2 separate regions of the Homo sapiens genome follow, and region 1 is linked to region 2. A link means that fine-mapping ties the variant in region 2 to the expression of a gene that starts in the linked region. Tissue or cell type: lung. Region 2 holds a variant in brackets; the other region holds the start of a gene. All regions are shown on one strand. Distances are from middle to middle. Region 1 holds the start of GPR34 (G protein-coupled receptor 34). Region 2 has its middle 15 kb from the start of CASK-AS1.

Region 1 (2,923 bases), 190 kb before region 2:
GTACATTACAATGTCATTCACTATATAAGGCTATTTACTGATATTTTTTAAACTACCTGTTTGATATGTTAAGAATTGCTTGTGAAGACAAGAAACAAACCACTGTGTTTACATAGGGGATTAATTTCCCAGTGGGCATTACTTGTGACCCATGTGCTATATTGAAGTGGTCACAATAGTTTTGTAATAGTAGATAGTGTTTTTTAAATGTTGTTACTTGGCAAATCCTATTCACAAGTTCAAAAACCTAGTATTAGTGCATTGTACCCCCGCACCACCACCTACTCCTGCAGTTTTTTTTCAACTGGCTCATGTAGGAGTACTGGACCCAGAGGGCAGGACCCAACAGATTCCACTGTGACTCCAGATGAGCAGAAGCTTTTAAAATGCAGTTTGGGTATGTTTGTGAAAATATCACATTGCTATGTTGAAATACATACCTATTTGGTAATAGTCGCAACCTTTCACCGTTTTTAGTTTGACTTGATAATGACTGAATCTATTCAGGGCATGCTTCAAAATTGCATTAACTGCTGTATAAAAAATGAAAATTGAAAACATATTACTTTGGAAATAATACTATTAATAGTGTGTTAGGTTTTGTTACAAATTTAACTGTGTCCCTAGAAACACATTTTAAAAAATTATTATTTGAACTAAAGCATATTTTGCTTTCTCTCTTATCTAATATTCACCTTATTTACTTCTGAAACACCAAACTTAAATGTTATATGGTCTGGTAATACTATAAAATAGTAATAATATAATAAAGAAAAGACAGTAATTTAAAATAGGGAGACAGCATAACTTAAAGTCAATAAGTTATAATTTATAATACATTAGAAATAAAATGTATTGCATATGAAAATAACTTTTAATTCATGCAAGTAGATCTGCAAAATCTTGATGGCAGTATCCAAATGCAGTATCAACAATGTGACTATATTGACAGTAGGAGCTTAAATACCTTGAATGTCTTAAAGTACTTAAAGTAACTAAAAAGACAGTCTCATTTGAAATCAAGGCAGAGGTGTCATTCAAGCAATTTACTCAGTAGTTCTAAAAGCGAATAACTGCTGACATTAGAGTAGCCTTATCACCATGAATCACGTTTCACTTTGAATGTTCAGATAATCAAATTTTAGCTGAAATAAAGGTTCATTTATGTAGCCGAAATCAAGAAATACTCACAGTTCAGGTTCGCCTGAAGTAAAAGGAGCAGAACCCCAAGCTTCCCTAGACACTGAGACTCGTCTTGGTTGTGTCAGCTGGGCTCTTCCATCCGGTCGTGGTGCAATTGGTTGGGGTTCTCTTCTTTTTTATGTTCATATGTGGTGGTAGGGTTTTTTTTTTCCCCCTCTTTTTTTTTTTCTTTTTTCGGTATGACAACTCTCAGATTCCTTTTGAAAATATTAAAAAGCCCTACTACCATGGAACAACTTTAAGCTCAACCAACACTGAACTTTAGGAAATTATTTATATCTTCTTTATGAATACCTTCCAACTTGACAATTGTGGAATGTTTTCCTCCCCCCGCTCAAAATTTAAAAGTTTTATAAATTCTAAGCAGAAATATGTATTTTCTGTGTTTTGTAAGAAATGATACATAATATGCTATATGGACTTTCAAAGCACAAGCACTGAATTTCTGTTTCTTAAGTTTTCATCTGTACATTATTTTAGCATATTTTCATGTATTCCTTTAAGACCTTTGCTAAAACAAACTTGTATTATTAGGACTAGATGAGATTTCTGATGGTGTTCTCCCCTTTTGATCACTATGATAAACTCTCCCGAGCAAATTAAAACATCACCTGTATTTTAAGCGAAATAATGATGGGATTCTGCAGTCTTGGTTTTGATCCTAGTCCAAAATTTAACCACTATCTGTCCATCTATGTAACTGCTGGCCCTGCAGTTTAGTGTTATTTCCCTTTTTTTGTTGTCATTTGAAATGAAGAAGTTAGTTTTTATTCTCCCCATAATTGTTATCCTGCAGCTTGTTTGCACTAAATATTTGACTCATTGGGCTGTATCTAACATTCTAATTATTTCTGGGTACACTCTTCTGAACATTATATTCTCCAGAGCTTTTTGTTTGTTATAAATATGATTTATGGGACAGGATATTTTTAAATTAATAGAATAAAAATGTTTTGTAGCTCTTACTTCCCCTTAGAACCTCTGAGAAGGAAGGTGGTTGCTGTATTAGTCCTGCAATATTGTTGTATTGGCAGGATTTTATTTTATTGTGGTACAATATGTAACATTAAATTTACCATCTTAACTTTTTTTTTTTTTTTTTTTTTTGAGACGGAGTTTCGCTCTTGTTGCCCAGGCGACAAGAGATTGTACAATGGCACAATCTCGGCTCACTGCAGCCTCCACCTCCCAGGTTCAAGCGATTCTCCTGCCTCAGCCTCCCAAGTAGCTGGGATTACAGACATGCACCACCATGCCCGGCTAATTTTGTATTTTTAATAGAGACAGGGTTTTGCCATGTTGGCCAGGCTAGTTTCAAACTCCTGACCTCAGGTGGTCCACCCACCTCAGCCTCCCAAAGTGCTGGGATTACAGGTGTGAGCCATTGCGCCCAGCCCCATCTTAACCATTTTTAAGTATACAATTCAATAGTGTTAAGTATATTCACATTGTTGTGCAACAGTTTCTAGAAGTTTTTCATCGTGCAAAACTAAAACTCTTCACCACTAAACGATTTCTCTCCTCTCCCCCTGCCCTTGACAATCATGATTCTTTATGTTTCATTGATTTGGACTACTTTGGACACTTCATATGAGTGGAATCACACAGTATTTGTCCTTTTGTGACATGTTTATTTCACTTGGTGTCATATCCTCGAGGTTCATCTGCGTTGCAGCATGTTACAGGATTTCCTTCTTTTATCAAACTGCATTATATTCCA
Region 2 (2,923 bases):
TCTCTTTCTCAGCTTCCCTTGCAGCTGACAACCAGGCATGTGTGTGATCTAGGTTCTGCCCCTGTAAGGCACCTGGATTCAGAAGAAAGCAACATGAGGAGTAAGTGTCCAATGAGGAGCTTTATAATCAGGATGGCAGTGGTGGCATCTGGCTGTCAGGGGCAGAGGTGACAGAGGTTCTGATTCCCATGCCCAGCAGCAGTGGCCATGGGGCTTCGCCGGAGGAACCCCTCAAGACAGTTTGGATTTTCTTTCTTTTTTTTTTTCTTCACTATTGAATGTCTGGTCCATGCCAGAATTCCTTTTTTTTTTTTCTTAAAGATGGAGTCTCACTATATTGCCCAGGTTGGTCTCAAACTCCTGGGCTCAACCTATTCTCCTACCTCAGCTTCCTGAGTAGCTGGGACTACAGGTGCAAGCCACCATGCCCAGCTCACCCCAGGATTCTTTGATCTACCCTAATAGTTTTTTAAATTCTAAATTTAAAAAATTAAACTTGAGATACTTTGAAACAAAAAAGTTCCAAATATAGGTGGGGCACAGTGGCTCACATCTGTAATCCCAGTACTTTGTGAGGCCGAGGCAGGAGGATTGTTTGAGGCTGAGAGTTCAAGACCAGCCTGGACAACACAGTAAGACCCTGTCTCCACAAAAATAAATGAATTTATTTTCTTTTTTTGAGATGGAGTTTCGCTCTTGTTGCCCAGGCTGGAGTGCAATGACGCTATCTTGGCTCATTGCAACCTCTGCCTCCCAGGTTCAAGCCATTCTCCTGCCTCAGCCTCCTGAGTAGCTGAGATTACAGGTGCACGCCACCATGCCTGGCTAATTTTTGTATTTTTAGTAGAGACGAGGTTTCACCATGTTGCTCAGGCTGGTATCAAACTCTTGAGCTCAGGTGATCCACCTGCCTCAGCCTCCCAAAGTGCTGGGATTACAGGCATAAGCCACTGTGCCCGGCCTGAATATTTTTTTAAAAAAAGAAAAGAGTTGCAAATATAGTACAAAGAATTTCCATATACTCAGACTCCCTAAATGCTAATATTTTATATAACAGTATAGGGCCAGGCATGGTGGTGCACACCTGTAATCCCAGCACTTTGGGAGGCCGGGGTCGGTGGATCAGGAGGTCAAGAGATCGAGACCATCCTGGCCAACATGGTGAAATGCCGTCTCTACTAAAAATACAAAAATTAGCTGGGCGTGGTGGTGCGCACCTGTAATCCCAGCTACTCAGGAGGCTGAGGCAGGAAAATCTCTTGAACCCGGGAGGTGGAGGTTGCAGTGACCCGAGATCATGCCATTGCACTCCAGCCTGGGCGACAGAATAAGACTCCGTCAAAAAAAACACACACACACACACAGTAAAGGCAGGGCACGGTGGCTCATGCCTGTAATCCCAGCACTTTGGGAGGCTGAGGTGGGTGGATCACCTGAGGTCAGGAGTTGGAGACCAGCCCAGCCAACATGG[C/G]GAAACCACATCTCTACTAAAAATTCAAAAATTGCCAGGCAAGGTGGCTCACGCCTGTAATCCCAGCACTTTGGGAGGCCGAGGCAGGCAGATCACGAGGTCAGGAGATTGAAAGCATCCTGCCTAACAAGGTGAAACCCCGTCTCTACTAAAAATACAAAAAATTAGCCGGGTGTGGTTGCGGGCGCGGTTGCGGGCGCCTGTAGTCCCAGCTACTCCGGAGGCTGAGGGAGGAGACTGGCGTGAACCCGGGAAGCGGAGCTTGCAGTGGGCCGAGATCGCACCACTGCACTCCAGCCTGGGCGACAGAGTGAGACTCCGTCTCAGAAAAAAATAAAATAAAATAAAATAAAAAATTAGCTGGGTTTGGTGGTGGGCACCTGTAGTTCCCAGCTACTCAGGAGGCTGAGGTACAAGAATTGCTTGAACCCAGGAGGCAGAGGTTGCAGCGAGCCAAGATCACGCCACTGCACTCCAGACTGGGTGACAGAGTGAGACTCCGTCTCAAAACAAAACAAAAATATATATATATATATATATATATAAATTAAAATTAAAAAATGTAAAATGTAAAACTATAACAACAGTACAAAGATGAAAATTAAGAAACTAACACTAATACATTACTGTAATCTAATTTAGAGACTTTATTCAAATTTTACCAGTTGCCTCACTAATGTCCTCCTTTTTCTGGTCCAGGATCACACATCATCCTAGTCATCATCATGTCTATTTCAATCTGGGCTAGTTCTTAAGTCTTCCTTTGTCTTTCATGACCTTGACACTTTTGAAGAGTACCAGTTATTTGTTGAACATTCCTCAATTCTGGTGTCTCTGATGTTTCCTCATGATTAAATTCAGGTATGCATTTCTGTAAGAATACCACAGAAGTGATAGTGTGTCCTTCTTAGTGCATTATATCAGGAGGCACAAGTTGTCAATTTGTCTGATTTCTGGTGATGTGAACATTGATCACTTTATTAAAGTGGTGCCTACCAGGTTTCTCCACTATTAAGTTACTGATTTTCCCCTTTGTAATTAAAAGCTACCTTGTGTGGACCTAATAGCTTTTAATACATTCCTTCTGTACTTAAACTAGCTAGAATGGTTCTTGATTCTAGAACGCTGACTTATTTTCTATTCCTAGTTTGTCAAGAATGTTTATCAGGAATGTGTTTTGAACATTATCAAATAATGTCTTTTTTTTTTTTTTTTTTTTTGAGATGGAGTCTAGCTCTGTCACCCAGGCTGGAGTGCAGTGGCGTGATCTTGGCTCACTGCAAGCTCCGCCTCAGCCTCCCGAGTAGCTGGGACTACAAGCACCCACCACCACACCCAGCTCATTTTTTTTGTTTTTTGTTTTTGTTTTTTTAGTAGAGACGGGGTTTCAAATGTTAGCCAGGATGATCTCAATCTCCTGACCTCGTGATCCACCCACCTTGGTCTCCCAAA

Evidence for each region. PIP is the estimated chance that this variant, and not a neighbour inherited with it, causes the effect.
Region 1: it holds the start of GPR34, and the variant in region 2 is the best candidate, but not a certain one, in a credible set for the expression of GPR34 in lung (GTEx, PIP 0.87).

Annotation. Positions count from the first base shown.
Region 1 is chrX:41,687,353-41,690,275 of GRCh38, reverse strand. It overlaps GPR34 (G protein-coupled receptor 34), which reads right to left and starts at 1,303. Exons shown (of 3, transcript NM_001097579.2): 1 at 1,192-1,303; 2 at 441-533. All of the region lies in intron 5 of CASK (calcium/calmodulin dependent serine protein kinase), which reads left to right.
Region 2 is chrX:41,501,697-41,504,619 of GRCh38, reverse strand. No RefSeq gene overlaps it. Among named protein-coding and RNA genes, the nearest start is that of CASK-AS1, 15 kb to the left of the region's middle. The variant C/G (reference allele first, on the strand shown) is at 1,472.